2 separate regions of the Homo sapiens genome follow, and region 1 is linked to region 2. Evidence: fine-mapped QTL for protein levels in blood plasma. Region 2 holds a variant in brackets. A gene starts in the other region. All regions are shown on their reverse strands.

Evidence for each region. A credible set is the group of variants that fine-mapping cannot tell apart. PIP is the posterior inclusion probability: the model's chance that the variant is causal. The UK Biobank Pharma Proteomics Project read protein levels with antibody pairs (Olink). The fine-mapping took linkage between variants from a reference panel, not from the people measured, so its PIPs are less certain.
Region 1: it holds the start of HSD11B1, and the variant in region 2 is the best candidate, but not a certain one, in a credible set for the plasma level of the HSD11B1 protein (UK Biobank, PIP 0.52).

What each region holds. Positions count from the first base shown.
Region 1 is chr1:209,702,644-209,705,499 of GRCh38, reverse strand. It overlaps HSD11B1 (hydroxysteroid 11-beta dehydrogenase 1), which reads right to left and starts at 654. Exons shown (of 6, transcript NM_005525.4): 1 at 470-654. The coding sequence starts at 557. All of the region lies in intron 1 of HSD11B1-AS1 (HSD11B1 antisense RNA 1), which reads left to right.
Region 2 is chr19:19,345,874-19,348,784 of GRCh38, reverse strand. MAU2 (MAU2 sister chromatid cohesion factor) reads right to left here. Exons shown (of 19, transcript NM_015329.4): 13 at 1,419-1,505. Among named protein-coding and RNA genes, the nearest start is that of MAU2, 26 kb to the right of the region's middle. The variant T/C (reference allele first, on the strand shown) is at 1,206.

The sequences.
Region 1 (2,856 bases), not on the chromosome of region 2:
CTTTCAATTTTGCTCAATTGAAAGTACATTTAACAAGGAATCAAAACACATGTGTTCATAGAAATTCCAGGGATTTTCCCTCACTTCTATGTAGTCATCATCTCCAGTTTTTTTTTTTTTTTTTTTTGCCTCCCACTTATCAGTCTCTTCATAGAGCCCAATTAGCTGCTGAGTTGTGAATTTGGGTATTACTCTCATTTTTGTAGAAGATTTGAAACTGCTTTCCATTAAGGGTGCCAAATAAAGCATGGCCTATTTGGCTAGATTTTGGCTACACGATTACCCTTCCTACACAGTCCCCCCTGTCCACAGCCTGTAGCTGGAGGACACAAAAATACCATCTTAACTCAGGGTTCCCTCATTTTCACCAACTTTGAGGATCAAGAACACATCTTGGTCCTCAGGAACACTCAAGCACCCCTGTGTTTTTTAAACCTATTCCTCCAAAATGAGACGCATGGGTACTTACCTGGTCTGAATTCCTCGTTTGCAGAATAGTAGTAGTAGGCCATGAAGAGCCCCAGAATGGGGAGGAGATATTTTTTCATAAAAGCCATCCGACAGGGAGCTGGCCTGAAGACTCCTGTAGGACACACAGAGAGAACCTACAGAGCTTTCTACAACCTCCTAAGCAGGCAGCAGCCTCTGAATTGTGACATCAGGGACGGGGGAGGCTGGAGTAGTCTCAGGCAGTGCTAGCCAATTTCCCTGTCAGAGCAGCGATTGGCTTTGGGTGGGATCCCATTCGTCCCTGGCAGCCTGTGTGGTGGATTTCATAATGGACAATGTTTACTCCATTTCATTGAGCAAGAGGAGACTTCCAGATGGCCAAGCTCATGACTGTACAGGACTGGATTCCTGAGCATCCCTACCCGAGTCCATCTTACTCTTAACACCATTTACGCCAGGGATCAATGATCTTTCAAAAGTAATTTGTCAAAGACAGAGAGAGAGGAGTGCATGTAGGGCTTCTGGGGGGAAATGTGAGTAATAGCAAAGAGAGCCAAACTCAAGCCAAATCTCACTCTCAGTCCCCCTACCCCCCCACCCAGTGGGAAGCAATTAAAAATAACAGCACAAAACAGCAAAATAAGCTTAAGAAAAAAAATGTGCACATTTTGGGAAAAAATAATGAAAGCAAAGAAGCTCTATAAGCCCCACACTCAAGTTCAATGAAAAAGTATTACAACATCAAAGGAGAAATTGCAAGCCAGCCAGAACCCAGATGGCGGGAAATCCAAGACTGGTTCAAGACTCTAAGGCAAGTGCAATGGATCATACACTTATTATTTTAACAGAGAACAAAGAAGAAATAATGAGTGACAAAAAAGGCACTAAACTATTAAACTGGGTCTTGTAAATGCTGTAGAGCAACAAGAAACATGGAGAAGATGCTAGGAAGAGGCGACCTGATGTAGAAGAAAAAAGAACTAGCATTAGGCAAGTGAAACTAGCTGGGGACGCCCACACCAGCTAAAAATAGATCTAGTAACAGTAAAAGGACGAGGGTGGTAAGAAACCCTTAGCAATTTAGAATTTATTATCAGGGAAATATAAAAATAACCACCTCAGTATGTCCGTAGCACGAATTCATTAAGGAATAATCCTCAAAGAAAGAATTTAAGATGTATCATTGTTAAGTTTTTCAACTCAAAACCAACCAATCAACTCATGGAAATTACCCCATCACAATGCAGTCCTGCATTCTGTAAGTTATCAGTAGAGCGGGGAAAAAATTTAAATGTGATAATAAGTATCAGTGCTTTGGAGGAGGGATAGGAGTTGGGAGTAGTGGGGGGACAGAATTTACACAAGGTTAAGGGAAATTAAGTTATGATTCCAAGTGCAGTATCTGGAAACATTCATCAAATTTTCACTTTAGAGTAAGAGAAAATAATTTAAGACCCAGAGGAGATGAAACAATTTGTCAACAAAGGCCCACAGCTGTGAGGGTCACTTGTAGAAAACAATGGAGATTTGAGAACAGTTGAGGGCTAGACAGAGCTCGAGGTCTATGAAGGACAAAAAGAGAAAAAAGATAAAATTCAAGTAAAAATTAGATTACATGCCTTTAGAACTGCAAGCTACATTTGTATAATTTTATAAATATATTTATGATACCAGGATATATTACAGACTACACTCCATTTTCATCCCTAGAGGGAAGGCAGTGCCAGCCAGAACCCAGATAAGGTTTATTTTCTTAATCCTATACTATTAATAGTAAAATTATAGGAAACAATGAAAAGTTATTTGGAAATATGATGATGTTGAAATGATAGAAAGATGGGCAGACTAGGGATGTTTATTGTCTGACATAAAAAATAAATAAAGAATTTTAAAGTCCATTAAGAAAACATAAATTTAAAGAAAGCAAAAATAACAATGAGTAAGATAAACTGCAGAGTAATAGAACACAAAGCAAATGCATTAACAATTGCTGATTGTTGGCTCCATTAAAAAATGAAGTCCAACATTGTGTGGCCTCAAAAGACACATTTAAACCCAAAGACACAAACAGATTAATAATTAGATGACCTAATAGCTACGATGCTAGAAAATAAGGATATGGCAAAAGCATCCAATAAAGTGAGTTTCATGGGATTAGATAAAATAATTGCTATATAAAATGCATTGATGAGAAACAAGGACACTGTGTAATGGTAGTTGATGCATTAAATCTTACCAGTTCTCAAATTTTTGGTCTCAGGACCCTTGTATACTCTTAATAATTTCCAAGGACCTCAAAGAACTTTTGCCTGTGTAGGTTTTACCTATTGATATTGCTATTGCAATTTATGCATTAGAAATTAAGACTGAGGATTTTTTTCTAAAGCTCAAGAATACATAAGCATA
Region 2 (2,911 bases):
TGTGGCCTCCAGGCTGAGCCTGGTGACTGACCAGCAAGAGCAGCCTCTGGTGAGAAGGGCCGGGGGCAAGATTTCCACACCCTCAGCCAGCCCTGCCTGTGCCACCCTGTCCTGCAGTAGGTGACAGGGGCCTGGGCGTCCAGAAGGCCTTTGTATGGTCAGAGTGGTGCTGAGGGGCTGGCCTGGCAGTGGGTAGGTTGGCAGGCTGGGGCCCGTGAGCCCTGTGGGCTGTGGGGGTGAGTGGGTGGGATTTCTCTGGAGGTGCAGGGACCCCGGGAGGCTCTGATGGGGGCGTGATCTGACTGATAATTTAGCTGCCCTCTAGCTGCAGAGGCACAGGGGAGCCAAACTCCTCCTCAACACTGCGAGCCCACGTATGGCATCGGATGACTAAGCCGGGGCTGGGCTTTCTTTTTCCTTTGAGACAGGTTCTTGCTCTGTCGCCCAGGCTGGAGTGCAGTGGCTGGATCATGGCTCACTGCAGCCCTCAATCTCCCTAGCTCAAGCAATCCTCCTGCCTCAGTCTCCCGAGTAGTTGGGACCACAGGCCTGCACCCCACCAAGTTTTTAAAAAATTTTTTTGTAGAAATGGGGGTCTCCCTATGTTGCCCAGGCTGGTCTTGAACTCCTGACCTCAAGTGATCCTCCTGCCTTGCTTCCCAAAGTGCTGGGATTACAGGTGTGAGCCAAGCACCTGGCCTGATACACTTTGGAGGTAGACCCCCAGAGGTGAAGGAGATACTAGAACTGAGGGACATCCTAGGGCTGAGGGGGATCCCAGGGCTGAGTGGGCATCCCAGGGCTGAGGAGGGAATCCCAGAGCTGAGGGGGATCCCAGGGCTGAGGAGGGGATCCCGGGGCTGAGGAGGGGATCCCGGGGCTGAGGGGGATCCCAGGGCTGAGTGGGGATCCCAGGGCTAAAAGGGACAGAAGAGGGAACCTAACTCTTATGCAAGCATTGGTTCAGAAGCGCCACGTGAGGGCAACCCTGGGCATCCCCACCCAACACTGCAGCCAGTGAGTGCCCCTGATCCTGCAGGGGCATCAGCACAACCTGGGGACAAGGTGCTCTGGCTGCTGCCCCTTAGGACTGAGCCTCAATGCCTGGCCGACATCCTAGAGCAGACAGCTTGGGCTATAAGACCTTGTCTGTGTGATTCATACAGCTTGGTTTGTTTGTGATAAAGAGAAGTGTTCTGTGGCTA[T/C]GGGAATGTTTTTGTCCCAGACCTGGCCTCCCCCGGCCATAGCCCGATTCACCTCTGGGTCGCCTTGTGTGTCTGTGTCGGGTGCCGCCCATCCCTCAAAAGGTGAACACCCTGGGGTCTGCTGAGATGTGCTGGTGCCCAGGACAACCCCCTGGTTCCCCAAAAAGAAGAGAACAGAGAGAAAGGATACCGAACATGAAGCATGTCACCTACTACCTCTTGGTGTCTATTTCCTTCCCGTATATACACACTCGCCAGGTTGGTGACGATGAAGGCCCACAGCTCCTGGTGGTTGGTGAGCTGGAATGGGAGGCGGGGACATTAGGGGGCTGGGTCGGGTGCTGTGACCCATGTGGCAGTGTCAGAGCACCCACAATCTCCACGGAGACTACTTTGGAAAAGACTTGTTCTTTTCATTTCAAACACACTTGTTTTGCCTCCTAAGCTCAAGGATAACACAGCTATTACTTCTTCTCATTATAAAACCATCATCTGCGTTACGGGGCAGTTAGAGAACACAGAAGAGGAAAACCAGCCACCCCAATCCTACCCTCAGAACATGTCGGGTTTTGGTCCATTTTCCACTGTCTCTCAGGACTGAGACCTGGTGGACCCTTCCTCCAGGCCACAGCCAGCAACCTGTGGGACCCAGGTGTCCACTGCCATCAAGGCATATGCTGGTCCTAGGCGGGGGTCACTCTTCATAGGGGGAAGTGGGGAAGAGGGGAGCTGTTGTCCCACAGGGGGCCAGCACAGGCCCCGCTCCAGGTAGGTGATGCTGTGTCAGAGACCAGAAATGCTGCTGATGACAGGTGGTGGATGGGCCATGGTCCCTGGCTCTTCTTGGCAAATGAGATCGTTCGTCAAGAGAGGGTCCAATCTATGTAGCTCAAGCCCTGCTCAGACCCTGGTTCCCAGTGGGGCTGGGCAAGAGGTGGAGTGAGCCCAGGAAGCACAGACCCCACCTGCACAGATCCCCTCCTGGCACACACCCAGGAGGCCCAGAGGATCTTCCGAATCAAGCACAGATGCTCTGAGACGTAGCAAGGTGGGAGATGTTTGTTTCAGGGCCACAGGAGGCGTGTGTGTTTGGGGTTAGGGGTGTTGGGGTTGCATCCTGGCTCCATCACTCCTGGGTGGGCCATGAAAAAGAGGCTCTCTTTTGGCCTCGGGGTGAGGACTCCTTAGGGTACATGGCCTTGGGAACTTTGACGCGGAACCAAACCAGCAATAGCAACCACTTGTGGGGAGTGAGACGGAGACGGAGATGGCAGGATGGCAGGGCCACGAGGAGGGTCCTGGCCCTGCTGCAGTCAGAGTGAGCCAGGGTCCTGGGAGCGAGGTGAGGAGGCAGAGGAGTGGGTGCTGAGTCAGCCCTTCCCTCCCAAGCATGCTGTCTGCATGTCAGGGCTCCTGTGCATCTCTGAGGCCAGTGGCGGGGGTGGCAGCACCCACAGGCCTGCGGGGTGCCGTGGAATGGGAACCCTGTCCAACAGTCAGGGCGCACACAGGACTCCCTGGTGACCTTGCCCGAGTGGCAGACAGAGCAGCCTCTGCTCCCTGACACCTCTCCTCAGGGCCCTTCCTGGCACCACCAGGAAAAAGGTGTCCACAGCCTCCATTTCCTGTGAGGAGGTTGAGGCTGAGGTGGGGACACAATGGTCCAGCCCTGGGCTGGGGCGCTCCGTGAGGATGTGGCACCAGCC